Linked DNA regions of Homo sapiens. The protein of the gene in region 2 binds, or shares a complex with, the protein of the main gene of each other region. Each region holds a gene or a part of one and is shown on either strand. Other genes may lie near its edges.

What was found.
Region 1: SRRM2 (region 2) and CWC15 share a complex: the UniProt entries of both Homo sapiens proteins name them as parts of the minor spliceosome.
Region 3: SRRM2 (region 2) and CWC22 share a complex: the UniProt entries of both Homo sapiens proteins name them as parts of the minor spliceosome.
Region 4: SRRM2 (region 2) and PPIL2 share a complex: the UniProt entries of both Homo sapiens proteins name them as parts of the minor spliceosome.

What each region holds. Positions count from the first base shown.
Region 1 is NC_000011.10:94,970,533-94,977,465, forward strand, and holds the start of CWC15 (spliceosome-associated protein CWC15 homolog), read right to left. Parts: upstream 3,025-6,933; 5' UTR 2,966-3,024; exon of another isoform or gene 2,741-2,965; intron 1,662-2,740; 5' UTR 1,654-1,661; coding exon 1,523-1,653; intron 956-1,522; coding exon 843-955; intron 534-842; coding exon 445-533; intron 1-444. UniProt on the Homo sapiens protein: Involved in pre-mRNA splicing as component of the spliceosome. Component of the PRP19-CDC5L complex that forms an integral part of the spliceosome and is required for activating pre-mRNA splicing.
Region 2 is NC_000016.10:2,755,626-2,762,649, forward strand, and holds part of SRRM2 (serine/arginine repetitive matrix protein 2), read left to right. Parts: intron 1-708; coding exon of another isoform or gene 709-739; coding exon 740-981; intron 982-1,846; coding exon 1,847-1,954; intron 1,955-2,155; coding exon 2,156-2,320; intron 2,321-2,844; coding exon 2,845-2,922; intron 2,923-3,359; coding exon 3,360-3,422; intron 3,423-3,514; coding exon 3,515-3,547; intron 3,548-3,726; coding exon 3,727-3,777; intron 3,778-3,943; coding exon 3,944-4,036; intron 4,037-4,121; coding exon of another isoform or gene 4,122-4,164; exon of another isoform or gene 4,165-4,497; intron 4,498-4,675; coding exon 4,676-4,874; intron 4,875-5,935; coding exon 5,936-7,024. UniProt on the Homo sapiens protein: Required for pre-mRNA splicing as component of the spliceosome. As a component of the minor spliceosome, involved in the splicing of U12-type introns in pre-mRNAs.
Region 3 is NC_000002.12:179,997,280-180,004,303, reverse strand, and holds part of CWC22 (pre-mRNA-splicing factor CWC22 homolog), read left to right. Parts: intron 1-4,397; exon of another isoform or gene 4,398-4,573; intron 4,574-7,024. UniProt on the Homo sapiens protein: Required for pre-mRNA splicing as component of the spliceosome. As a component of the minor spliceosome, involved in the splicing of U12-type introns in pre-mRNAs. Promotes exon-junction complex (EJC) assembly.
Region 4 is NC_000022.11:21,690,001-21,697,024, reverse strand, and holds part of PPIL2 (RING-type E3 ubiquitin-protein ligase PPIL2), read right to left. Parts: intron 5,641-7,024; coding exon of another isoform or gene 5,532-5,640; exon of another isoform or gene 4,847-5,531; intron 3,210-4,846; coding exon 3,153-3,209; intron 2,433-3,152; coding exon 2,360-2,432; intron 2,271-2,359; coding exon 2,208-2,270; intron 2,089-2,207; coding exon 1,955-2,088; intron 1,632-1,954; coding exon 1,535-1,631; coding exon of another isoform or gene 1,429-1,534; 3' UTR 1,159-1,428; coding exon of another isoform or gene 873-1,158; 3' UTR 141-872; coding exon of another isoform or gene 1-140. UniProt on the Homo sapiens protein: Has a ubiquitin-protein ligase activity acting as an E3 ubiquitin protein ligase or as an ubiquitin-ubiquitin ligase promoting elongation of ubiquitin chains on substrates.

The DNA.
Region 1 (6,933 bases), on a different chromosome or scaffold from region 2:
ACTTCCCTCCCTAAGCACAGAGGGAACCATTAAGTGTATTGCACTTATAGAAGGGGACATATCTAATATGGAAAGGCCTCCAGGTACAACTCTAGAGGGCACTGTTTATAGGAAGCCCAGTATGAAGAGTGCCCTGGAGAGGTGTGTAACACAGCAGTAGTGCAGTAGTTTAGTACAGGACATTATTTTGGGGGAAAGCATATCCTTTTATAGATTCCTTCCATATTTGGTTCTCTAGAGATCAAACTTGTTCTTAAAGTCCCACAAAATAATACTTTTGATTTTAAAATCAACTATAAAGTTTAGCACTGAGGTCAGGGCTATATTTGAATAACAGTAACTAAACATAAATATATGTCACTTCTTAAAGCAAAGACATAACAAGTATTTTAGAATAGCATGGTAAATCAATTATTAGAGATGAAAGGAGGAAACAAAACATACATCTGTTAGAGGGTCATCTGCATCAAGGTTGGCGGCAGGAATCTGGTCTAACCGTGGCTTTTTTGACACTGAAGAGGAGGTTGTATGTTCTGGGGGGAAACAAAAATCATTTAACTTAGTAAAACAAATACTTCATTTCTTAAAATGTTTTAGGGACCTGTGAGCACAAGGAGCCCACATTAAAAGCATTATCCACAGTGAACTCACATCCACAGTGCCTGGGCAAATAAGCCTTTGGTAAATATTTGTTGTTATTATCTCTAATGACCTAAGAAAGTAGTACAGCTCACATCAATCTGTAAAAGTAAACAAATGGTTAACATTTTCCAATTGCTACATAAAGAAAAACTATCAACAACATAATTTTATGAGACAAATGTCTTGGATAGTGTTGGTACCTCGGGTTGGACGATCCCTATTTTTCTCTCTTGCAGCAGCTCTCTCTCTTTCTTCCAACTCTCTCCTGAAGTCACGGTTACGAACCTCTTCAGGGGCATCCTGAGTAGTCTGTCTAAAGTAGAAACAAACCAGGGCAAAAATGTTACTTAAACACACACACACACACACACAGAGACTGTAGTAATGGAAGACAATTCAGGAATGAGACTTTGTCCTTCAAGCAGAAAAAAGGGAAGTAGACAAGATCATAATTTAATCTGAAGGTTACTAACAGCCACTCTTGTGATGTTCCCAATATTTCAAGAAGTCCAAATTCAATCACATATTTTCCTATAATAAGGCTTTACAGTGATTAAAATGTCTTTAATTTTTATTAGGATTATATCAACTCAGAACTTAACAGTAATACTTTTAATATACTGACTGGTGCTCATAGTGCATACTCTGAGGCATTATTATTTCTATTATTTATTGTTCTATCTACATATGAAAATTCCTGGTTAGTAGGAATTTCACATTTTAAAATCACAGCAGAATTTTAGTGTTAAACATCCTATTGCATTCTATTCCTATGAAAATAGATAAGTGACATAACTCAAACATACTACTATATCATGACCATGCCATTTAACAGATCTGGTCTTGTTTTGTGAACAATAAAAAAAGAAAGTCTTACTACCTGTATTTTATCTTTGTATGAGAGGGTAGGTCTCTGCTTGAATACTGCTTTGAAAGTTGGCTCAAATCACCTTCTCCTTTTCCCCTTCCACCTCTGGCAGGTTCAAAGGTTGGCCTGGCTGCTGTTGTCATCTTTTATGCTTTGAAGAAAAATATAATCAAGTTATTTCCAACATTACAAACACTCATTTTATAGAGTATTAATCAATATCCATACTGGTAAAATAAGTTCTAAAACTCATTCCCCAAAACCTGCTTAATCTTCTTAAACAAAAGTTTTCAAGAAAACAAATTATGAGGCTTAGGCTGTACAAGGAATATGGCTTCTCAGGCTTGCCTTAGTACAAAAAATTCTGTCATGAAGATCTGAGTTTGCATCCCTATTCTCCTTCTGACTATATGGGCTTGAGCAAGTCACCTGGCTTAACTTTGTCATCTGTGGAATGGAGATATTCCTCATAGATTATAAGAATTATGACACTTGACATGTCAAAACCCTAGTAAAATACAGTACTGCCATGACTGAGTTTTAAAAATTTCCAACTCAACCTTACTCTACCAGACTCTGTAAGGTTTGCATTTTATCTAAACTTCACACAATAGCAAATAGGCTAGTAGAAACAAAAGCTAAAAACAAACAAAAAATATCACTGACAAAGTTACTAAATGTCCCAGAGAAAAGTGTGTTAAACTTCAATGACAGTTACACAGAAAAAAATTCTTAAACAACCGTTTGTTGAGCCAATTTTCTCCTACAACAGGCATCATACTATAAATTAGATCGTTTGTGGGTTATAATTTAAGGCCTGTTCAAAAAAAACAGGAACCTCACCCCCAGAGGATTCTGATGCCAAAAATCAGGGACTCATTCCTCAAGTTACTTTCTGCTTGGAGCAGTCACAAGAATACTGTGCAGCAGATGCAGTCACTAAAACCCTGTTAGTGTCGGAAAAGCAAGTGTGTGGGGAGGGTGGGCGAATTGGGAGGATTTTTTGGGGGGGGGGCGATGCTAATTCTCTCAACTTTCAAAAAGGGTAGAGACATGTATACAAAGAAGAAAACAGGGTTATCTGGCGCTGGGGGCGCCGCCCCTTCCCACACACCCACGGAATTATCACTCCGGCCTCCCGTGAGCTAGTCTTTGGCTATAACCAGAAACTCGCTGCCTCTTCACCCGTGCCCAGCACTGCAGGGGTGCGAAGGGTAGTGAAGGGAGGACCTGGGGTTCGCTTTACGCAGTAGGCGAGCTGCCTGTACGCTGCGATCTCCTCGGCGGGCCCAAGAGCTCCAGACGCGCCTGACAGGCACTCGGTTCCGCCCCTAGCCCGCTGCTCCAGGGCCTCCACCGCCCGCGCTCTGCACTCTGCCGCCGACTCCGACCCCAACTGCCCTTTCCCGTCCCATCGCGATAAGAAAGATAATCTCCTATCCTCTTGCCGCTCACACTGGCCGAGGTCCGATGCAGCAGGCTCCGAAGATCATACAGACGCCATTACCACTCTTGGCTCCCAGAAACCTCTGCGCCCAGAGCTAGCGCCTACGACCCGGAAGCAAAATCCAAGCGCTTCGGGGGCGGAAGCAACGACCAATCCGCAGTGGCCGAAGTGGAAGTCGGCGTAACGGCACTAAGGGGCGGGGCCGAAGCGGCCCAGGGGGCGGGCGTTTGAAATCAGTGCCTTAGAGTAGACCCTAAACCTCATTTTATACCTTCAAGAACCAATTACTTAATGTCTCTTCCGTCTTTTCCGTCCCCGACCCCCTCCCAGACTCCTTCATTCCGGTACTGCGTGGACGGAAAGCCCCGGGTAGCCGACACCACGTCCCCGGCTAGCGGGAGAGAGCGTGGAAAAGGATTACACCAAACTGTTTAAATCCAACGACTCCTGCTTCCATCCTTTCTCCTGAGCTAGAACCAACAAACCTAGAGAGTTGGGCTTCGGAAAAACTAGTGTTTTCATTTAATTGGATATGAAGAAAGAACAAATATGTACGGGGCAACCACGATCTTTACAAAGGTACCATTCCTGCAAAAATATTAACACTTCAAAGCAAAGGTTGTATTCGTAATGTTTGCTAAAATTTCTTATTTAAAAAACGTTAGTTTTAGTGGGAGGGGAGATGTCAGTATTTACGAGAGCGTTTACAATGGTGGGCCCAACTACCAGGAGCACAAGATGTAATTATTAAGATGGCTACTTAAGTGTTAAGTTTTAATAAGACAACGAAAAGTAGAAAACCCGAAAACCAAAAACCTACCAGTCGTCTCTCCTCCCTTCCATAAAAACAAATTCTGAGAATAGAGATCTTGGTTGTTTAGCTCATCTTGGTATCTCATCACATAGACCTTGACGTATAGTAGCTGCTCAATTAATATTTGTTAAACAAATGAAAATTCAACTTCCCCAACTTAGTTTAAAATGTAAGGAACTCACAAAATTGAATATTTAAATGCTTTCTTACCCCTAAATTCTTTGCAACTTTTTAATGAAGAAAGAAAAGCAGAAAAAGCCCTTTCAGTCATAGAGTTCAAGATGAAAATCCTGATTTTTCTTACCGAAGGTATCCCTCCTCCAGTCTTAACAAGTCTCACTAAAAGACGCGATCATCATGCTAGTTACTCAAACCAAAATCCCGGAGTGCCTACTTAAATTCCTTTTCATTCACTCTTCACATACGGTTCATTTACAGGTCTTAACAATTCTACTTTTAAAACTCACCCGCAATTTTATTCTACTGCCACTACCCTTGCCTTTGCCAACACCATCTCCTACCTGGATTGTAATTGCTTCCTATTATATCTTCCTGCGTCATCTTTTATCCTACAGTCAGTGTTGCATATAGCCAAGAGAGTGATCTTTTAAAATTAATAAAATGGTGTTACTATCCTGTGTACAATTTCACTGCACTTAGAATAAAAATCACATTTCTTAATGTGACCTGAGACCCCACGGAGTCTGGTTCCTGCCTACCTTCCAGACTTCACTTCCAATCAGTCACTCGCTTACGCACTAAGCTCTAGACACAGCCAAGTGGGCATTTCTGTTTTATAAAACAGGGCAAGATTCCTTCTATTTTAGGGCCTTTGCACTAGCTTTTCTCTGTTGCCTGTGCCCCAAAGTAACTGTATCACCATCCTTCATGTCTCAGGTATCACAGTGAGGTTTTCCTACCCCCACCCCTCCAACACTTGTGTTTGTACACCATCACATCACCCTGTTTCATTTTTCATACCACTAAACATTACCAGAGTCTATTCTATTCATTTTTTATTTCCATGTCTCTCAGGAGACAGCATGCGAAGGTCATTAAGAGAAAAGGATCTTCAGCCTGCCCATTTTTGTTCTAAATTCCAGTTCTGCCCTTTCCTAGCTCTATAACCTTAGGCAAGTCATTTTCCCTTTCTGTGCTTTCAGTTTCCTCACGTGTAAAATGGGCGTAATTCTAGTCCCTAACTTGTAATACTACTCTAAGGATTAAGTGAATTAATACTTGTAAAGTGCTTAGAACTGTCTCAGCAAATAGTACTTGCTAAATAAATGTTAGCTATTATTATTATTATTAATATTATTTTTATTATTATTGTCTATCTTCCTATATTAGAACATAAGTTCCAGGAAAGCAGGAACCTTGTCTCTCTTGTTCACTGGGTGTATCCTCTGCATATAGAACAGTGCCTGGCACATAATAGGTGCTGAGTAAGTATTTGTTGAATGAATGAATGAATGAATGATGCACTATGAAGTAGAGGAATGACGTAACAATGGCAAGATGGTAACACAATTATAGGAGATACCCACAGTTTTTATGTTCCAACTGTCCTCATTAGCCTGGAGTGAATCACTTCATTGATTTAACTCCCAGCCCACTAACCTAATCTTTTGGTTGCCAGTGGTGATAAATAGCCACCCTATAATTTCATTAACACCAATATACAATATAGTCAATCCACAAAATTAAAAGCTTTTGACTTAAATGAAAGTGCTAATAAGAAAATGAAACTAAAGCTTTTGACTTAAATGGTTTGAAAGTATTAAGAAAAAGAAACTTAAGTTTACTAAAATCTTGAAATTCATCTGATCAGTTAACCTAGCTGGCAAAAATCATATAACCTCCCAAGAATTCTTATGTTAAACCTGTTACCACAAAATCTAGTTTGGCCCTTAATTCTGCCTGCCAGTCCTCTTATGCTCTCCTAATTGTTTATTTTCCCCCTCTACAATAATATAATTTCCCACATTCCCCTTTCTTCAAGTCTACATGCCTCTTTCACCTCCTTTTCCCTCTGCATTCTCTTTCCTGGCAGTAGATCTTCTCAGTTCTCTGAGAAAACAGAAGCTCTTAAACAAGGACTTCTCATCTCCTTTTTTCCGCAGATCTATCGAGCTGCCTTTGGCTATTCCTGTATCCTCAGATTCTCATTATTACTGGAGATGAGGTGACCCACACTCTCCCTTGTGCTCTGGGTCCTAATTCCTCCAGGTTTCTTAGTGGCTGGCATTTTGCTATATATTTTCTCTTTCTTATGATCTATGAGGCCATCCCTTTCAGATCATTTTTATCAGCTTTTGGACATGGTATAGTATATCTTAACCTTAAAAAAGGCTCTTTCATTTTAGTATGCCAAAGGTAGCATTTAATTAAATGTGAAAGGGATGTAGTTTGGCCCTTGATTGCAAAACTTTCTATTTTTATGGCAGGAGTAGCATAGGAATTCCAGTTTAAAGCTTAAACAAAATCAACACCTAAAAGGGAAAATAGAAACCATAAAAACCTAAGAAGAAAATTTAAGAAACTATTTATAGAACCTAGAATTTGGAAAGACCTTTCAATCAAAGCAGAACACCTTAAGAGCTTTAAAAGAAATACTTTTAAAAATTCATTTATCCAACAATTAATTTTATAGCTGTAGATGCCAAAAACAAGTCAATAAATTCTAGATTCGCAAATAAATTTTGTAATGCCTATAACATATAAAGGATTACTGCTACTGCTAGTGATACACATAATATAAAAATCACAAATTACCCAATTAAAAAATGGACAAAAGATATAAGCAGGCCATTCAGAAAAAGCAATTTCAAATAGACAAGTCAATAAACATGAAAGACACTCAACCTTCTAATGAGGAAAATGAAAGTAAACTAAAAATGGATTATCACATTACAGCATCCGATTGGCAACAATTAAAAAAATTAATAACATAGTTGGATGGGATTGAGAGAAAAGGGGATCCAGTCAGACAGCGGGGGGCATTGGTCCCCCATTACCCTCACAGTAAAAGCCAAGGTGTTCACAATGGTTTCCAAAGTTTTCTATGGTCTACCCTTTCCCCTACCTCTTTGACCTCATCACTTGCTCATGCTTTTCATGGCTACCTCCTTCATATTGTTGCTTGGACACGCACACAGCTGC
Region 2 (7,024 bases):
GAATCAAGGAAATGGCCCTTACCTGGGAGGTGAAGTATATGACGATTATCCAAGGTTCATGTGTGTTTCTGATGTGCATGCTGGCCTTTAGTTGGGGTGTGAGGCTGCACATTCTGAACCAACTAGTCTGCTGTTCAGATACCTAGGGGCTGTGTAGTTTATTTCATATTCGTATAGGGTGGTCTGAAATCCTTAGGTAAGTTTTTGGGAGAGTCTTTGGACATGGACTAGAGGCCGTTGGGTGCCACAGATCTGTGTCTGGTGTTTGTTGTGACCAGGAGGCTTTGGTTGGTTACCAGAGGTTAGGAATTAGAGTAGTTGGTAAACACACCACTTGTGCATTTTGGGGCCAAAGGAGAACAAAAAGGGACAGTGTGGAGAGATTTTAGAGGAACAAGATCCTTGTTTGCCTAGGGTGGAAAAAGAAGAAAATTTAGGTGTAGGGAGGGATTATTTAGAATTCTGTGCAAGGGCATTGAGAGAAAGGCTGTAAGAACTGGGCTGTGATTTGGTAGAAAGGAAATTTGGAAGGGCAAAGAAGTGGTTTTCTTGGGAGACCAGGAGGATGGTGGAGCATTATACAGCGAAGACTTAGTGTGAAGATCAATGTTGAATTAGGGATGAAGGAGAGCAGGGACTTGGGTGTGGGGCGGTAAGTGGTTAGTTTGGGGCCAGGGGCCTGACCCGTGTCTCCCCGCTCCCCCTCAGGAGCGGTGGTGCCCCCCCCGGGCACGGGGCCATGTACAACGGGATCGGGCTGCCGACGCCCCGGGGCAGCGGCACCAACGGCTACGTCCAGCGCAACCTGTCCCTGGTGCGGGGCCGCCGGGGTGAGCGGCCTGACTACAAGGGAGAGGAGGAACTGCGGCGCCTGGAGGCTGCCCTGGTGAAGCGGCCTAATCCTGACATCCTGGACCACGAGCGCAAGCGGCGCGTCGAGCTGCGATGCCTCGAGCTGGAGGAGATGATGGAAGAGCAGGGGTGAGGGAGAGCTGGGGGAGAGTCAAGCACTGAATGAGTGCAGAGCTGGGGGTGTTAGGTGGGATGTATAGGGAGCTTAGGGTGGTTGAAAGAGGCCTGGCAAAGAGTTGTGGTAGGGGAGGAGGCAGATGAGCTCTAGAGAAGTGAAAACAGTTAAGGGACAGTGCAGAGTGGGAAATGAGAAGGCTGTGTGTCTGGGGCATAGATGGGAGCCTGAGGTACTAAATGGAGGCACGTGGGAGAAGGGAGGGGCCATTGAGGAACAAAAATGTGTTTTAAGGAAGAGATGGGAAAGCAGAGACCAGGTAGAGGAGCTAGGTAAGCTGATAGGTGTTGTCATTGGTAGAAAAGAAGAAGATAAATGGATGTAAGGATTGAGGCCTTGGAAAGTAGCATAGGCAGGAAAAGAGGAATTAGAAGAATACGTGAAGAAGTGGGAATCATGGGCTGGGAAGGGAAATTTTGGAAAAGGAGCCCATTAAGGCAGAAAACTCTTTTAGAGCAGTGGTTTTAAACTTCAGCAATGGTGATCCTTTTATACAGTATCCCTTACTTTGGAATCCCAGGAAGTAAAAGGCACATTCTTGTTGAAGTTGGGGAGGAGCACTTGGAACCCTGCTTGCTTAACTTTTTTCTTTTGGTCCCTGAGGTGTAGCATATTTAAAATCCACTGTTCTAGAGGGAGTAGTAAGTAGAGGGAAGAAAGATGATGGGAAAAGATCAGACAGAAGGGACTTTTGGGTGAGCGAAAAGTTCTGTGTGCGCATGGAGAGGGAGGGGCCCCTTTTGGGAATGAGGGAAATGGAAACCTGGGACTGGGGAAAGTGTCCTGTCGAGCTTAACCCTGAAGGGATTTGTTCTTCAGGTACGAGGAACAGCAAATTCAGGAAAAAGTGGCGACCTTTCGACTCATGTTGCTGGAGAAGGATGTGAACCCTGGGGGCAAGGAGGAGACCCCAGGGCAGAGGCCAGCGTGAGTGTTGCGCTCTCCCTCGATGACTCTGGACTCTACTCTGGCTGCTGGCTGCTGCTGCTGTCCTTTTCCTTACGTGGGACTTCCTCCCTGCTTTCGTCTGCCTTTCCCATGCCTTATTTGGCTCCTGCTTATACTTGTGTTCTGAATATGGCTCTGTCCTTTATATTTCCTTCAGACTTTTGCCCTTCTTTTCTCTAGGGTCACGGAGACTCACCAGTTGGCAGAATTAAATGAGAAGAAGAATGAAAGACTCCGTGCTGCCTTTGGCATCAGTGATTCTTACGTAGATGGCAGCTCTTTTGATCCTCAGCGTCGTGCCCGAGAAGCTAAACAACCAGCTCCTGAGCCTCCCAAACCTTACAGGTATACAAGGCCAAGAAACCACTGTCAGCTTCTTTTCTTGATTGTAAGCTCCATGCTCTATTTTTGTCTTTTTGCGGGCTGGTTTCTTCCCAAACTCTTCAGATTTTGTTCTTCTGAAGTTGAGGTGTCCAAAAAAATGTGTCCAAGGGTTAGTCACAGTGGGTCACGCGCGTAATCCCAGCATTTTGGGAAGCTCAGGCAGGAGATCACTTGAGGCCAGGAGTTTGAGACCAGCCTGGGCGATGTAGTGAGACCCCATCTCTACAAAAAGAAAAAAAGCTGGTTGGTGGCACATGCCTGTAGTCCAGGCTGCTTGGAGAGGTGGAGGCAGGAGGGTCTTTTGAGCCCACAAGTTGGAGGTTACGGTGTGAGCTGTGTTGCTGCCACTGCACCCCACCTGAGGCAACAGAGCGAGACTCTTATTTTTTTATTTTTATTACTATTTTTTTAGACTCTGTCTTTTAAAGAAAAGAAAGGAATGTTTGTTCTACCACCCATCTCTGCTGCTTTTCATTTTTCCCTAGCCTTGTTCGGGAGTCTAGCAGTTCTCGCTCACCAACCCCAAAGCAGAAGAAGAAGAAAAAGAAGAAAGATAGAGGACGGTAAGTTAGTTGGAAAGTGACTCTGATAGCCAGAGGACCAATCCTGTGGTGTACCTTTCTCTCTGGAAGTGGACAGTTCTGGCTTCCACAAAGCAGGAGATAGTTGTCAGGGAGGAGGGAGTTACCATTGAGGCCTCAACTAGAAGAAATACCTGAGTTTCTCAGTGGGGAAGTGTTGAGTTTGCAGTTCTGCTAATTAAGATTGGCCAGCAGCATTTTGGATTCTGGAATTTTCTTTTTCATTTTGAGGTTTGTTGACTTAAGGAGTTACTTGTGCTTGTTGGAGAAAGAAGAAATAAGTCCTGGGCTTAGGTCTGGGGCATTAGTGCTATTAGGACATTCAAGTGTTTTAGAAACCTTTTTAGGAGAGAGATTGTAAGTGGGAGGGCCAGGAAAGAAGCCAAGCAGGATGAGCTTGCTTTTGAATCCATCTTTAGCAGGTCAGAGAGCAGCTCTCCTCGACGGGAGAGAAAGAAAAGCTCAAAGAAGAAGAAGCACAGGTATGAGGTGGGAATACTTGAATGACTGGAGAAGGTTTGCTGAATTCAGGCAGAGGTGTTTCTTATGTTTTTTCTTCTCTTTTTTCCAACAGGTCAGAATCTGAGTCCAAGAAACGTAAGCATAGGTAAGAGCTCTTTAACTCATAGGGGGCGCAGTGGCATGTGGAGTGGTGATTTTTTTTTCTTGGAGTGAAGCTCAATTCCTTGATCTTCCTTGTGTCAACACTCCCTCTTTCCATTTCACTTTTGGTTTTATTTCCTTTTTTAAAGAAGTTACTTTTAACAACCTTTCCTTATTTCCCAGGTCTCCCACTCCAAAGAGCAAACGTAAATCTAAGGACAAAAAGCGAAAGCGGTGAGTGAATTTGTGGGGAATTTGCTTAGGAAGTAAGTGAACGCCACCTTAGTGGGAGGGAGTTGAATGAGTTATGTCCCTGACTGGTAAAGGGTTGAGGGATACGTGAGGAGAATCCAGGGCAGGTACAGCAGTACCCTGAGCTGTGGTGGTGGTCTTCCTTCAGGTCTCGAAGTACAACACCAGCCCCCAAGAGCCGCCGGGCCCACCGTTCAACTTCTGCTGACTCTGCTTCCTCCTCCGATACTTCCCGCAGTCGGTAAGGGGTAGTCCAGGAGGAAGGGAGGGAGAGGGAATGATGGGTTAATTAATTTAATATTTATTGAGCGCCCACGGTGTGCTAGGCGCTGCACAGACCATTCGGAAGACACGGTCCCTGCCCTCTAGGAGCTGACAGGCTAAAGCAACAGGATGGACAGACATATACATTTCCCCTTCTCTTTTTTTTTTTGTTTTTGTTTATTTGTTATTTTTGTTTCGTTCTGATGTATATGGACTGCCAGAATAGGGGGGGTGGTGGTTTGTTCGTGGTGTCTGGGGGAGGAAGGAATCCTTACCCTGGCTTCCTTAATCGGGGAAGGCTTCCTGAAGGAGGTGGGCTCAGAGGTGAGTTGTGAATGAAGCGGGTAGGGAGTGGGCTGGGTGGATGGTTTGGGGATGTTTGGGGGAGGTGAGTAAAGGGGTAGAGGGAGAACGCTCTTTGGGATTGTGTTGGGAAAAGAAGAACCAAAGTGGACTGTACTTGCATTTCAGTGAATGATTTGAGTTGTGCGACTAAAGGCTTTTTGGAAGAGGGTTGTCCAGTTAGGAAAGGTGGATGGGAGTTGGGGAGGGGGTTTTCTGTTCTCCCTTTGAGCTGATTTCCTTCCTCTCCCACGTCCTCAATTAACTCCTGCAGGTCTCGAAGTGCTGCAGCTAAAACTCATACAACTGCCTTGGCTGGGCGAAGTCCTTCCCCTGCTTCAGGGCGACGCGGGGAGGGAGATGCGCCTTTCAGTGAACCAGGTACTACCAGCACACAACGGCCTAGTAGCCCGGAGACTGCTACGAAACAGCCTAGCAGCCCTTATGAAGACAAAGATAAAGACAAGAAGGAGGTATGTTCCTGAGTTGGTGATGTTCATTGGATTGCAAATGTATAGATTTAGGATAGACATGTGATGTGAAAGGGAGAGGTAATAACTTATTAAAATAAATAAATTCAGTTTTTTTTCCTGCATTTCTCTCCTAGTTCTCTTACTGCATCTGCAGAACTTTTAGTGTTGTTACTAGACTGAATTGTGAACCCTTTAGAATCAAATCTCACTGGATGTTAGGTTTTATATTGTGTCTTGTTTATACATAGATAGAACTGGAACAAACGTTGTATCTTATCTGTGTACTCCGTATGATGCCTCTAGTTTCTTCTCTTTTTTCATTAAATGCTGGTCATGTCTCACCAAAACTTTTTAATCCATTGCGTTGCCACCAATAGTTTGAATGAAACACTGAAATAGTCTTCAGTAGTCTTCTGTTCCAATTTTAAGCATTAATCATTTCCTCTTGCTTTAGTGATTACAGTCTGAATTCTTGGCCTCTATCATCAATTTTCCATGTCATCCAGGGTTACCTTTCCAAATTACAAGTTGGTTGACCTCAGAAACTTAACTACTTCCTTATTGCTTTTGAATTATATTTAAGGCTTTTAATAGTCTGGTCTTTTTCTCATTTCCTGTACTCTACCCATCCTGGGCTGCTTTTTTACTCTTCACACAAATCATGTTCTCACATCTTTATTCATGCTGTTTCTTTTCGTTTAATAGAGTTATTCTTCAAAGGTGAAGTTGCCATTCGCTTTAGGAAACTGCTTATTTTTCCATTTAAAGATAGTTTTTTTCCATTCTTATAACATTTTGTAGTGGTATTTGTTAAATGTAGTAGTGCATTAGTTATTTGCATTTTGTGTTTCTTTTAGTTTTAAGATTCTGGCTATCCATATATTCATATGTTTTCACCACTGTGCTTTATATGATTCCTTGTTATTGAATGAAAGTGATCGCTTGTGGTCAGAGGGTGTGTAAAAGAAAAGTTATCATTGGAAAGGGTGTTGGGATCTTAGGGGTGATGTGAAGTTTTGGCGTTTATGAATCCCTATCCCTGCTCTCTCTTCCACTCTTAGAAATCTGCAACTCGACCTAGCCCCTCTCCGGAAAGGAGCAGCACAGGCCCAGAACCACCTGCTCCCACTCCGCTCCTTGCTGAGCGACATGGCGGCTCCCCACAACCCCTTGCAACCACCCCCTTAAGCCAGGAGCCAGTGAACCCCCCATCTGAGGCCTCTCCAACTCGGGACCGTTCACCACCTAAGTCTCCCGAGAAACTTCCCCAGTCTTCTTCCTCAGAGAGCAGCCCACCATCCCCTCAACCTACCAAAGTTTCTCGGCATGCCAGCTCTTCCCCAGAAAGTCCTAAACCTGCTCCAGCTCCAGGGTCCCACCGAGAGATTTCTTCTTCTCCCACATCTAAGAATCGCTCACATGGCCGAGCAAAACGGGATAAATCACATTCTCATACCCCCTCCCGTAGGATGGGGAGGTCCCGTAGCCCTGCCACCGCTAAGAGAGGGCGATCTCGGTCTCGAACCCCTACCAAGAGAGGTCATTCTCGATCCCGATCTCCCCAGTGGCGTAGGTCCAGGTCTGCACAGAGGTGGGGAAGATCTAGAAGCCCCCAGCGACGTGGCCGCTCTAGGTCTCCTCAGCGACCAGGCTGGTCTAGGAGCAGAAATACCCAGAGAAGAGGCAGGTCTAGGTCAGCAAGGCGAGGGAGGTCCCACTCTAGATCCCCAGCCACTAGGGGTAGATCTCGTTCTAGAACACCAGCCCGCCGGGGCAGGTCCCGCTCTAGAACACCTGCCAGGCGGAGATCACGATCCAGAACTCCCACCAGGCGTAGGTCTCGGTCTAGAACACCAGCCCGGAGGGGCAGGTCTCGGTCTAGAACACCTGCTAGGCGCAGATCTAGGACCCGATCACCAGTACGACGCAGGTCTCGTAGTAGATCACCAGCCAGGAGAAGTGGCAGGTCACGCTCTAGAACCCCAGCTAGACGTGGCCGCTCACGCTCCAGAACCCCAGCCAGACGTGGCCGCTCACGCTCTAGAACCCCAGCTAGACGCAGTGGTCGCTCACGCTCCAGAACACCAGCCAGGAGAGGGAGGTCTCGGTCTAGGACACCAAGACGAGGAAGATCCCGCAGTAGAAGCTTA
Region 3 (7,024 bases), on a different chromosome or scaffold from region 2:
CAACACAGTGATGCATTTTGTATTTCAGATGCCCATGCCTTAACTTGAATAATATTTTCAATTTATTGTCCACTTGTATTTAAATGGAATTTTGTACTACTCATCATATCCCTAACTTGGTCATGGTTTGTTCATGGTGCCTGGAGCTAGTCCGAGAAAGAAGTGGCTATTGGTAATACATTCATGCATCCCTCTTATAACTTTGAAGCCTCCCTTGTCGAATTTCCCTACTTTTCTGTTTATCTGAGCATGGGAGGGTGGTGGAACAATAAAGCCAGAGAGCATACTAGTTTCAGCAAACTCCCAGACTTAAACTTTTTCTCAGTATGTACATTTCCCAAGTGGACATTGGAAGAGACATTTGAATACCTACAACAAAGTACAAACTTTAAGCATGGATTATAGCTAGCCTTTATATAATAAAGTTAATAAGTCTTTCCTAGTGAACAGATACCAAAAACGGGGTATGGGCTGCCTTGGCCTTGGGACATATTAACTCCTGTGGAATGGGTTAGCTAGTGGGGAGGAGGAACTCGGTGACTCATGTTTAACCTGTCTTTCAGCCTAACTTATAAATGGGTGGAGCTAGACAGAGTTCAGCACTTCCACCTGAAAAGTTACCCTGTGAGTCCTTCCTGAAATAGTTTGTCAGGATAGCTTTATTTTAGACCTGGCTACAGGAGCCTCTGTAGTAGAATGCAGTGCTTGCATGTCTAGGGGCTAAATTTCTCTGTGGAGGCCAACACCTCCAAGTTTTCTTTAAACCAGAATGTGGTTTACTACGTGGCTCTCTAATTAAATAACCAGGTGACTTTCAAAGCTGTGCCTTGAAAATTGGCAGAATGTGTTCACCCATATACTTAATTAGGCAAGCTGAGGAACAGATTTGGGACAGGAGAGAGTGGTTTGAATGTGTGATGAAGGCATATGGCATATTCAGTAATTAGGGTTGATTTTGTAAGTTAAAAGAACTGCACCTTCAGGGACAGATTTCCTTTTGCAGTGCCTGCAAAGGAACTAGTATTTTTTTCATCTCACTCAATGAGGAAGTGTTTTCAAGCTGTTCCACAGGTTAACATGGAGTGAAGACTAATAGGGGGTGGCATCTGATAGTGTTGTCTTGATGTACTAAGACTTGGAAATCTTAGTATTTCCAAGAAGTAGGAGTTAATAGGTGAGACAACGCTGCTGTTGTATTCCTTGATGAACAAGTTGACAAAATGGCATTATAGGAAGTTCTATGTAGGCAGAAATTGGAGTAATCAGCAGAAATCTACACTCCCCGTTTTTTATTTAATTTTAGACTTGGAACTTATTAAGTAGCAGACACTGTCCTAGGTTCTGGATATGTAGCAGTGACCAAGAACCTTGAGGATCCAGTGTACTCATACAGAGCCTTTCATAGTTTAGCTTAATGAGTCTCTCATGTTCCATCTTATTCATGTTCAGTTTTTCATGTACACCTTGGAATCCCCAAATTCTCTGTCTCTGAGTCTTTACACATGCTTATCGTATTTCCTGAATGACCTTTTCCCCTTTCGATATGGATAATTCCTACTTGTTCTTTAAGACTCAGCTTCAAGACCTACTTCTTTCTGTATGTCCCAAACCCTCTTTTCCAGTAACACTTGTTTATGACATTGTTGTAGCACTTAGACATTTCTTCTTTACCCAAGGACAGAGTCCTCAATGCCTTGTCTGTTGTGTAATGTATATATCTCCCCACCGTACATAGACACTGCCTTTAGTAAAGACCATGACTGTACTTTTTCTCTTAGCTTCATACTTCCTCATTTTCTCTGTAAGCATTTTTCTTTTTTCATCTTCTTTTACTATTGTTTTGAGATGGGATCTCACTATGTTGCCCAGGCTGGGACTCTAGGCACATGCCACTGCACCCAGCTTTTCTCAGCCACTGAATATAAATATCAATTATGGCCCTAGCCTAAATGGAACCTTCCCCCAGCCTCCTATATACAGTGACAGAATGAGGGGGAAACATGGGCAGATTTGGTAGAATCAGTAGGATTTGGTGACTTACAGGGAGTAAGGAAAAGGAAATTGCCACCTGGGAAGCTTTGTAAGTCATATCTTAGAAGAAGAGCTGGTTTAAGATGGGGAGAAGGAAATAATTAGTTCCACTGTGGATTTCTTTAGTTCAGATGGCCTTTGGCACATCCACTTAGAGGTTTCCTGTAGCAAATTGGACATCATGATTTGGAACTCTAGAGAAGATTGGCTGGAGTAAAAAGTTGTTTTCGCATGTTAATTAAAGCTATGGGGATGGAGATGATCTTCCACAGATAATATGGAGAAAGAAAAGATAAGGACTATTCATTCATCCATTTAACAAATATGTATTGAGAGCCTCTAGTGTTGGGAATGTAGCAATGAACAAAACATAAATTCATGAGCAAATACTAAACTCTCAGGCATAGTAAATATTAAAGGGATGGACAAATGAAGGTGGTGTCCCTGTAAGTTGACAAGTGAGAACTTCAAGAAGGGGATTAGGTGCCAAATGCTAGAGCAATGTCCCATAAAAGAAGGAAGCTGCCCCTGGATTTAGCAACAAGAAAAAAAGTTACTGTGTAACATTGGTAAGTGCTGTGGAGTAGTGGGAAGGGAAAGCTGAATTACAGTGGGTAGGAGAGGTTAAGAATTAGAGACATCAGGCTGGACATGGTGGCTCACTCCTGGAATCCCAGCACTTTGGGAGGCCCAGGTGGGCAGATCACTTGAGGTCAGGAGTTTGAGACCAGCCTGGCCAACATGGCGAAACCCCATCTCTACTAAAAATACACAAAATTAGCTGGGCATGGTGGTGCGCACCTGTAATCCCAGCTATTCAGGAGGAGGCTGAGGCATGAGAATCACTTGAACCTGGGTGGTGGAGGCTGTGATGAGCTGAGATCATGCCACTGCGCTCCAGCCTGGGTGACAGTCAGACTCTGTCTCAAGAAAAAAAAAAAAGAAAAAAAAATTAGAGGCATCAAGTGTGAACTTACATATCACAAAATAGCTGTGTAGGGATGAGACAGTAAAACTAGAGAGGGGACAGGATAAAGGGAATTTGCCCCATAAATATCATAATTTATTTTTAAATGAATCATTAAAAAGTTCAACATGTAGAATTTTTCTTTAAAACCAACTTAAATAGAAATCAATACTGTACTGTAAATCAAGAGACAGCTTATTGAAATGTTGAAACTAACAAAAATAGACAAATTTCTATTCTCATAGATCCTGCATTCTGTTGAAAAGAAGCACATTGGGGAATCTTCCTATGCGTAAAAAAATTAATAGTATTTCCAAATGATTGGATCACTTAACTCTTTATTTGGTTACTTAAACAGCCTAAAATAGACTAGCTTCATGATACAGGAAATGAATGGGGGTAATACTACCTCCCAATTTATAATGTGAGGTTTTCAGTATAGATAATGGTGTCACTGGGTTCATTAAAATGTCTTTTTTTTTTTTCACTCCTCTGTGTCTTACTGTCTTAAAGTGTCTGAAAATTTGGGCTGTCTACTCTCCACACAGAGTTGCAGACCAGTCAAATGCTTTTATATTACTTACTTCTTACAGAAAACAATGTCCAGAACTGTCTGCACAACTTCTAGCCCTGTACTTGAACCTGGCAATCTAGTCATTCAAATGGTTATGAGTCAGCACACCTGGCATATGCAATGACTATGAAGCAAAAGGGAGGACAGCTCTGCAACTCTTTATTTGTAATTTTTGGAGCCAGAAGTGTTTTGATTTCAGTATCTTGTAGATTTTAGAAAACTGCAGTGCCTATACTACATATTAAGTAATCCCCCCTTTTGGGGTCTGGAGTAACATCCTCTAGTCAAAACACATTAATATTTCTGCACTGTATCAAGTCACATTAAGTATCAAGTCAGTATATGCTAAGTTTTGCTCTCAAGTGAGTTGCCACATGCTTAAGAATAATCTTTGTATTTTCAGAGCTTTACAGATTTTAGAACTGCAGATAAAGGATTTTCAACCTGTACCTGGTGACTTTTCTAGAAAGAGACAGGAGTATTTTGACCCTTTTATTTTCTTGAAATTGTGATTCTATGCTGACATCAAATTATAATTTTTTGGCCTTATGAGGTATATCATGAGGCAATTTTTTCACTAATATGTAAATTAAGACAGGAAAAAATAGCAAGAAACGGTTTTTCTAAAACAAGTAAGTTTTCCTTCAGTACAGATATGGAAAGTACATAGCAATCTTGTTTTATATTGTTCAAGAGCGAAGCCAATCTGTTACTCCTATTTGTTCCCTGAAAAGGAAAATCCGTTCCTTGGGGGCTTGGCTGTTGTTGAGGTATTTTCTGAGAATTCCGTTCCGTTATGTCCCCTCCCATTATATTTTGGCATTTAGAATAATTTTAAGACAGTTTTTATTTTGTATTGTATAATATTACCACTTTCCCCATTGGGCAACTAAGGTTTTTGTTTTGGTTTTTGTTTTTGTTTTAAATATGAACTCTGTTAAAATGTTTGAAATTCACCAAACCTGTTTTTACTATTTAGAAGCCAGAGGAGCCAACTAAAGGTAACTCACTATTGATTCCCCTTTCCTTTAGCAATTTTATGACAATATGTTTCAGCAAGTTCCTCTAACTTGGACTGAGAACACCGAAGTGACAATGGTAGAAGTGTTTTGCTACGGAAATCATCTGGAAAGCAGTGCATTTCAGCCATTAGTTGAATATTTTCTCATTTTCTTAATTTTTGAGATGATTGCAGAATTCACAGTTTTCTGCTTAACAGTCTGACGTACTTATATATGTTATTAAATATTTTGCTTTCTAATGCTTGATGAAACTGAGAGAAAAACTATCTTTTTTTTAATAGTGCTCTCGTGAATACTATATCTCCTATTGGAAAATATCCTTTCTTCGGGAGAACAGGTGTGGTTTTGTTGAGTTGCTTTCTTGTGAGAAGGGGAAAGAAATTTAATAATTCACCATAAAATTCACATAGTGATGCTTAGAAGAGCAGAGAGTGCTATAAACTCTAGATAAATTGCTCTCATTTCAGGAATTTCCGATTAGTGTAAGTATTAGCATGCATATGTTGAACTCAGAATTTCCGAACAGGCATATTCTGCATAAATCTGGACAATGACAATACTTTATTCATTTTTTGTTAGAACTATGATAGCAGTCTACTTTACCATATTGTCATTTTCACACTTACGTTGTGAGACATGGAAATGTAACAGATTGTACTTTATTGCCAGAAATTATTTGCTGATGAAAGTTGAAAGGGGAAAGATGATATCGATCAGAAGAAAACTCACTAAATTGAAATATGTAAATTGAAATATGTAAATTTAAATAGAAATAAAATGCACAGAAATTGCTTGTTCTGAAATGTGTAAGTAGGTTGGGAAGAGGAACCGGGTGTAAGACTCCAGGAGAGTAGCAAAGGAAAACGCTAAATCTTGTGCAATGGGGTCAAGTGATTTTTTATTTTTATTTTTTGCTCATAGTATACCTAGTCACAGTGAATTCTAGGTATGCTAAATTAAATAAAAAGGAATCCTTAAAATTACTATGAATGTTTGAAAAGAAGTAGTGCTTCATTATATTAAATCACAGTCTTTGCTATCTGGAACTTTGAACGAATGGATCAGTTTAGGCTAGGATAATTTTCTGTATAGTAGAGTCTGTACTTGTTTACATTTTATAATTTACCATTTTGGCTTCAATTCGTTAGTGTTGGCATTTTCATTGGGACAAAATATATGGCTTTGGCATCAGATAAACCTGGCTTTGAAGTTTAGCTTCTGCCATTTACTAGGTGTAATTTACGTGGACAAATTGCTTGAATTCTCTGTACTTCAGTTGTTTCACTGAAAAACATGGCTAAAAAAAAAATCACCAGAACAGGGTAATTATGAGGATTGAGGAAGATTGTATAAGTGATTATAAATTGTGGCCATAATTTCTCAAGTTTAAAAAACACTTCTTACCTATGAATTATTAAGAATTAATACATTTGGATTTTCTGTTTCCCTTTCCAATTGATTTACAACTAAGTTCTTCACTATAAAGTAGGTAGGCTGTGGGGTCTCTATATTCTGCCTAAGTGGCTCATGGTTTGAGAACAAATTGAGAACCAAAGTTTCTTATGTAAAATTGAAAAGCTGAGGAGACTTGGGGAAAAGTTGGATTTTGGAGTTACCTTGGGAATACTTTCATAAAACAAGTATGCATGGGTTTCCCCTACACTTTCTGCCCATTTTCTGATTTTGTAAGTCAGAGGTGGGCCCCAATATATGTACAAGTAATTCTCCTGTCATGCATTTTTTCTTGATTCAAGTTGTGTTTAATATAGTGACATCAAACTAGTTTTACACTGTTAAGTAGTGATTTAAAACTGACCTGTAGGAAAAAAGTCCAACCTGTCACCTTGCTTGAGTGGCTTAGTGTTTTGTTTATCATTATAGATTTGTTTCTTATACCTAGAATGTAAGCTTCACATGAACAGATTTTGTTACGGTAGTTCATTGCTGCCTATCCAGTGCCTAGAAAGATGCTGGGCAAATAACAGAAGTGCTGTATTATTTGTTGGGGAACAAATGTACGTATAAATAACACTGGGTTTAAAGGTAATAAAGGATATGTTAGAAATGTTAAATGGTTGTGCTAGTAGAGGTAGGGAAAAAAATACCAATATCTTTGAGCAAAAGTAAGTCGAGTAAAGTTTTGAGTTTTATGGCTCTCTATACCTTTATAGCCATTAAAACAGGAGCTTTGGAAGGAGTCATGCAATTTGGTTTCAACAGAGTCATCTTGTTGAGGCAAATGGTCCTAAAATCCAGCTGAGATAAGGGTTATCCCTACAGGGCTCTCATCCTCAGGTGAGGGAGGGGGTAGCCTCTGTTTTAAATATTTTTTAAAATTCTATTTTAATTTGTAGCCTTTTAAGCTACATTTTGTACTTTTTTTTTTTAGTCATTACTCTAAGGAACAGTATATATATATCCTTAACTTTT
Region 4 (7,024 bases), on a different chromosome or scaffold from region 2:
ACAGGCTGCAGAGGGATGGGCTGGAGAAGAGAAGGAGCCAGCCATGGCGCAGTTCTTGTTCTTAGCATGATGAAGGGCCACAGATTGGTGTGCAGCAGGGTGACGAGGGGCAGACATACCTCTAGTGGTCATCAGGCAGCCTGTGGCAGTGGATGGGGTGAGGCAGAGATGCAGATGAGGCGCCACCCAGCATCCAGGGAGACAAAGGGCTCAGGCCTGCAGCTTCAGCATCAGTGATTGATGAGAAAAGGAAGGGCAGAGGTACAGCCTGCAAGTTGCTGACAGGTTCAAGATTTGGGGCAACAAAAATGAGAAAACCAAGAACAAGGCCTAAGTTAGGGCTTAGTGTGAAGAACTAGAAGTGGGGGGTGGCCTGAGGGCAACAGGGAGCCCAAGAGGCAAGTGTCAGGCAAGGAGAGTCCATGACATGAGAACACTGACCACTGGCCTGGGCTGAAGACGAAGAAAAAGCCAGCCAGGGGCACATTTAACAGAAAAATGGGGGTTGAGGGAGGGGTCTTTCTTTAAGGGCTGCTGATGCAGCTGGCCCAAGGCCATCAGAGTCAGTGACTGACAGGAGGAGCAGAGTCTTGGAGCCCAGTGGCCGGGCCTGAGAGCAGCAAGGCCACTTCAGCAGGAGGGCGGGGAGAGGGACATCCACTTGTTCTCACAGCAGGAGACACTGGCCTCAACCCAGTGTGGGTCCCCTCAAGATTCTCACAGGGGCACAGAGACGCCAGGCAGGCTTGAGATGAAGCCCAGGTGGTTCACAGCCAGAGCAGGTGAGCAGGGCCCTGAGAGCTCAGGCAGGGCACGGCAGGAAACTCAATGCTGCCGTCCAACACCAGCCTTCAGAAGCCCCTGAAGTTTTGTCAAAACAGACCGAGAAGCCCACCCTGCAGAGGCTTAGGCTCAGTAAGTCTGGGGTCTGAAAACTTGTCCCAGGTAATGGCGTTGGTCAGGGGACCACACTGGTTGTATAAATAGGCTGTCCCTGAGAAGATGACAGAAGTAGGGGTAAGAAAACCAGACATATACAGCTGGATGTAGTGGTGCACGGCTGTAGTCCCAGCTACTTGCGAGGCTGAGGCAGGAGGATTGCTTGAGCCCAGGAGGTCGAGGCTGCAGTGAGCCATGATCACACCACTGCACTGGAGCCTGGGCAACAGAGCAAGACCCTGTCTTAAAGAGGAAACCACAATCTGGAGACACAGTCCTTCCTCACTAACCTGGCCTGCCTACTAGAGGGGAGGCCTGAGGCACCAGCCTGGGTGTAGGGCAGGCCTTGTGCTTGAAGGTCCCAGCAGTGGGCTCTGGCTGGGCCAGGTCCTGGAAACAGGGCCAAGGCCCTTGGCAACAGGTTAAGGGATGGGAAGGCTGTGGGCTCCCAGGGGCCAGGAAAGGGGATGCAGGCAGCAGGCAAGCAATTTATTGGCTGGCAGCAGAGGGCAGGCTAGAAAGGCTGGAAATGGAGATGTGGACATGGGCCCCCAGCCCTGCAACCCCACCAAGGTCCACAGCGGCCAACCTGCTGCTACCAGGAGCTGAAGTCCCCAAAACCCCGACTGGGCTTCTTCTTGGACATGGGGACAGTGGCACTGGTTGAGGGCTCTTCCTCTGCTGCTCGCTTCCTGGGAAGAGAAGAAGCCGCTGGGAGCCCACACCCTCCCTCAGCCCCTCCTGACTTGTCTGTGTCTCCATACAGCCCTCCCGGTGTAGGCCCAACCCCTCCCACCTGCTGCTCCCACATCCCCCTGAATTTGATCTCTTCCACCCACAGAGGCCCCGGCCAGGCCTTCAGAGGCAGTCCCTCGGCTGCAGAGGCCACACAGCACAAGCCCACGGCCGGGACCAGTGCCCATAGCTTGCTTGCCCCTCTGGGTCTGACCCTCAGACCTCAGTCAGCCCTAGGAAACACCATGGGAAACAGGGAGGCCAGCCCCGCGGCACTCACGTGGCTGCTGGGTTGATGTACTTGCCCACGCCCTGGCGGAAGGTCTGGGGGCCCTGGCTCCCTGCCTGGGGCTGGCTGCTCTTCACTTTGGTCTCCGGGGCTACCTTGAGCTGTGTCTTCCGCTCCTGCGCAATCTGTGGCACAACAGGGCGCTGGCTAACCGGCAGCACCTCGGGCAGGACAGATGCTAGGCTTGGGGTGGAAAAGTGCACTAGCCCAGACCCTCCTAGGTGGTGGCATCGTGCCCCCTCACCTGGGCATCGGCCTCCTCATAGGGGTCCACGAACACTGTAGTGGCATCAATGCGGATCTCCTCCTAGCAGCAAAGGGGGCTCAGTGCACGGCAGGTCCTCCCCCTGCCTGCCTGGCCCCCAGCCGCCACGCCCCACCTCCCTGGGCACAGACCTTAGGGCGGTCAGTTTTGGGGTCACTCTCCACATTCTCCATGGCTGTCAGTACGTCAAAGCCCCCAACAACCCTGCAGCAGGGAGACAGAGGTGGGTCTGCGTGTGCTCAAGGAGGGCACCCCCACGGCTGAGCCCCAAGGCACGTGGGAAGAGGGGTTGAGAGCCCCGAGGCTGGCCTGGTGGTCCTTGGGCAGCAGCCAGGAAGGCGATGAGAGGGAGTGGCAAGGGCGGGGTCGGCTGACCATGGCCCTGGGCATATCCAGCTGGGTTTTTTTCTGTTTTTGTTTTTTTTTTGGTTTCCCCCACCCACAGGAAAAATAGGAGTCACAAAACGTGGCTTGTGCTCTCCCCGCTGGTTTGGTAAACAGAGTTCCACTTGGCCAGAACCACATCACCTGCGTCCACCCTGTTTCGTGCTGCTTCCACACAGCTGGGTGGGCGTCAGAGACCACGTGGCCCACAACGCTGGAAAGACCCCTGGACTAGAGGGTGAAGGGAGCTGGGTGTGGCCAGGCTTGCGAGTGGCGCGCCACTGGGTCTGAGACAGGGCAGTGTCCAGGCCACATGGGCGAGTTTCCTCCTCTCCTGAGCCCGGTGGGTCTAGAGAGCCAGACTTCCCTGGCACATGGAGCACCCTCCATCGCAGCTCTGCATAGCCTCAACCCCCAGCAGTGATGGCCAGCATGGCACATGACTCAGGTCCACGAAAAAGGCAGTGAGGAGGCCTCAGGTGGGGAAGGAACCCACCTAGCCCACTGACCCCCCAGGCTTCACACAGCCGCTTCCCTTACCGTCCAAAGATGGTATGCTTCTTGTCCAGGTAGGCACAGGAGCGAAACGTGATGAAGCTGGGGAGGAGGGCTGGATGGTTAGGGAGAGCATGGCACCTTCTGCACCTGGCCTGCCTAAGAGCACACCAGGAGCTGCCCACCCTCTACAGCCAGCTCTGGGAACCTGCAGCTTCCACGGACGCATGTGTGCACGTGGTTCCCTGCGCTGCCCACCAGGGCAGGTCATTAGCCCCCAAGGCTGCCCAGGGGACCCCGGAACTCCAGCTGTCCCCAGGTCTTCCTGCTGCCCCGGCTGCTGCCCACTGCCTGTCAGGTGGTCCCTGTGCCCAGAACCAGGTTGGCCATGCAGCTCTGTGGGAGGTGGCTGGGACGAGGGGACACCTGGAAAACCAGAGCCAGCCCCATGTCATCAAGGGACCTGTTGAAGGACTGAGGAGAAAGGAGGCAACAAAGCCAGAACAGGAGTCAAGGGATTAAGAAACGTGGGTAACATAAATAAACATGGACTAAGAAAATGCTCAGGTCGTCCAGGCACAGTGGCTCACGCCTGTAATCCCAGCACTTTGGGAGGCCAAGGCAGGTAGATCACTTGAGGCCAGGAGTTGGAGACCAGCCTGGCCAACATGGTAAAACCCTGTCCCTATTAAAAATACAAAAATTAGCTGGGCGTGGTGGCGTGTGCCTGTAGTCCCAACTACTTAGGAGGCCAAGGCAGGAGAATCGCTTTAACCTGGGAGGCAGAGGTTGCAGTAAGCTGAGATCACACCACTGCACTCCAGCCTGGGCGACAGAGTCTGTCTCAAGAAAAAAGAAAAAGAAAAAAGGAAATGGGGTGGAATTAAAACAGCCAACAGCACTGCCATGAGACGAGGAGAGAGTTTCTGCCAGCCTGGTCTGGGAGGAAGGCAGAGACTACCTCATAACTTTGGACTTTTTTTTTTTTTTTTGAGATGGAATCTTGCTCTGTCCCCCAGGCTGGAGTGCAGTGGCGCGATGTCGGTTCACTGCAAGCTCCGCCTCCCAGGTTCATGTCATAGTCCTGCCTCAGCCTCCTGAGTAGCTGGGACTACAGGCGCCCGCCATCACGCCCAGCTAATTTTTTTGCATTTTTAGTAGAGACGGGGTTTCACTGTGTTAGCCAGGATGGTCTCAATCTCTTGACCTTGTGATCCACCTGCCTTGGCCTCCCAAAGTGCTGGGATTACAGGCGTGAGCCACTGCACCTGGCCAACTTTGGACTTTAAATAGATGTCCTTCTTAACCTTAGACCAGAAGTAAAACATCTAATTTCCAAACCAGCAGAAAGAGAAGAGAAGCAAATGAAAATAAATATAAAAAATGGTAACTAGAAAGCAACAAGATCATAGAACGCAACAGACCACCTGAAGAATTAAGTCCACATTTAAGATTGTCAGGATTGGCCAGGCACAGTGGCTCACGCCTGTAATCCCAGCACTTTGGGAGGCCAAGGTGGGCGGATCACAAGGTCAGGAGATCGAGACCATCCTCGCTAACACGGTGAAACCCCATCTCTACTAAAAATACAAAAAATTAGCCAGGCGTGTGGCGGGCGCCTGTAGTCCCAGCTACTAGGGAGGCTGAGGCAGGAGAATGGCATGAACCTGGGAGGCGGAGCTTGCAGTGAGCCGAGATCGCGCCGCTGCACTCCAGCCTGGGGGACGGAGCGAGACTCCGTCTCAAAGAAAAAAAAAAAAAAGACTGTCAGGATGAAGGAGAACACGACAGACCCCAGCTGTGAGCCTTCAAAAAGCCCTCAGAGGGCAGAGCCAGAGAGGCTGAAAAGAAAACGATGGAAGACATGGGGTGGGTCCCGGCGCTGGCGGCACGGAGCACTCCCCAGGGTGGTGCAGGCAGGCACAGCCCACAACCCGGCTGGTGAGACACAGGACTTAACCTCCACTGCATCAAACATGCACCCCCCAGCCACGCAGGGACACGCTCCTGAGCCCACCAAGTCTGACCACACCCGAGGCCACCAGACAAGTGTCCGCAGATGTGACATCTGCAACGGTGCAGACCTGAGCTCTGACCTGCAAGCAGTTCCCTCTCTTGCTGATTTCTAACACAGTGAAGGAAACTAGAAGCAGAATTAAACTCAGATAAGAGGAAAGTAAAAGAACCATCCTGAGGCAAGCTCCTCCTAGAAAATCTTTTTTTTTTTTTGGAGACGGAGTCTCGCTCTGTCACCCAGGCTGGAGGGCTGGAGTGCAGTGGCGCGATCTCGGCTCAATGCAAGCTCTGCCTCCTGGGTTCACGCCATTCTCCTGCCTCAGCCTCCTGAGTAGCTGGGACTACAGGCGCCTGCCACCATGCCCGGCTAGTTTTCTGTATTTTTAGTAGAGATGGGGTTTCACCGTGTTAGCGAGGATGGTCTCGATCTCCTGACCTCGTGATCCGCCTGCCTCGGCCTCCCAAAGTGCTGGGATTATAGGCATGAGCCACCGCGCCTGGCCTCCTCCTGGAAAATCTTTAATTACAAGAATCACAAAAGGGAAAACAAAGCTGTAACAAATTAAAGTCTAATGATCTTTGAATACGGTAAAATAGGCAAACCTTTGGCAACAGTTGTCCAAGAAAGCACAAAATACTACTAGAAATAAGAAAAGAAGGCCGAGTGTGGTGGCTCATGCCTGTAATCTCGGCACTTTGGGAGGCTGAGGTGGGTGGATCACCTGAGGTCAGGAGTTGGAGACCAGCCTGGCCAACATGGTGAAACCCTGTCTCTACTAAAGTACAAAAAATTATCCTGGTGTGGTGGTGGGCGTCTGTAATCCCAGGAGAACCGCTTGAACCCAGGAGGCAGAGGTTGCAGTGAGCCGAGATCCCGCCATTGCACTCCGGCCTGGGTGACAAGAGTGAAACTCCATCTCAAAAAAAAAAAAAAAAAAAAAAAAGAGAAGGTGGCAACTGATCTGTCAGCAGTTTCACAGGCTGGTTAAGCCAAAGAGAAATAAAAAATAATAAAATGATTCCCTGCCCTGGCCCCTGCCAAACAACAAAAACAAACCACGCACCCAACCTACTTGAAAATAACCAACAGTCCTAGGCAATCCTTGGCTGAGAAGAAATTGAAAGGGAAGCTACCAACAACCAGCAAGCAGTGAAGAGGGAACATGCACCCTCAAAATGACAGACGTGGCTATCAGAAACACACATGGATTAAAGTGAGGAAGGAGGAAAAGCACCATGAAGAAGCAAAGACAGAAACTGAAAACAATTACAAACCCTTCAAAGTGAAGTGAAAACAGACAAACCCTTCAAAGACCACTAAGGGACTGAGGAATGGAAAGTGTGATTAGGCATGAGAAAAAAAGGTCAGCACAGCGAGGCCAAGAGAATACCAGCCTTCATGGAAACAAGTGCCCGTTAACCCTGAAATGAAAGCCCCAAGGAAGTGGCACGAATAGCTGCCAGCTGCCTTTGCCCAGCTGTTAAGCACAGCTGACTCGTTTGATTTTTTTTTTTTTTTCCAGACAGGGTCTCACTGCTGCCCAGGATAGAGTGCAGTGGCGCGATCCTAGCTCACTGCAGCTTTGACTTCCCAGGCTCAGATTATCCCCCCACCTCACCCTCCCAAGCAGCTGGGACTACAGGCGCACGCCACCATGCCCCGCTAATTTTTTTTATTTTTTGTAGAGATCGGGTTTTGCCATGTTGCCCAGGCTGCTCTCGAATTCCTGGGCTCAGGCAATCCACCTACCTCAGCCTCCCAAAGTGCTGGGATTACAGGTGTGAGCCACCACGCCTGGCCATCCCTGTGATTTTAACCATTCCAGGCCACAAAGCCACAGCCAGCCCTGCTCGTAACATGCAGGGGCCACACCTGTCACAGCAAAACCTGCTGGAGCCAG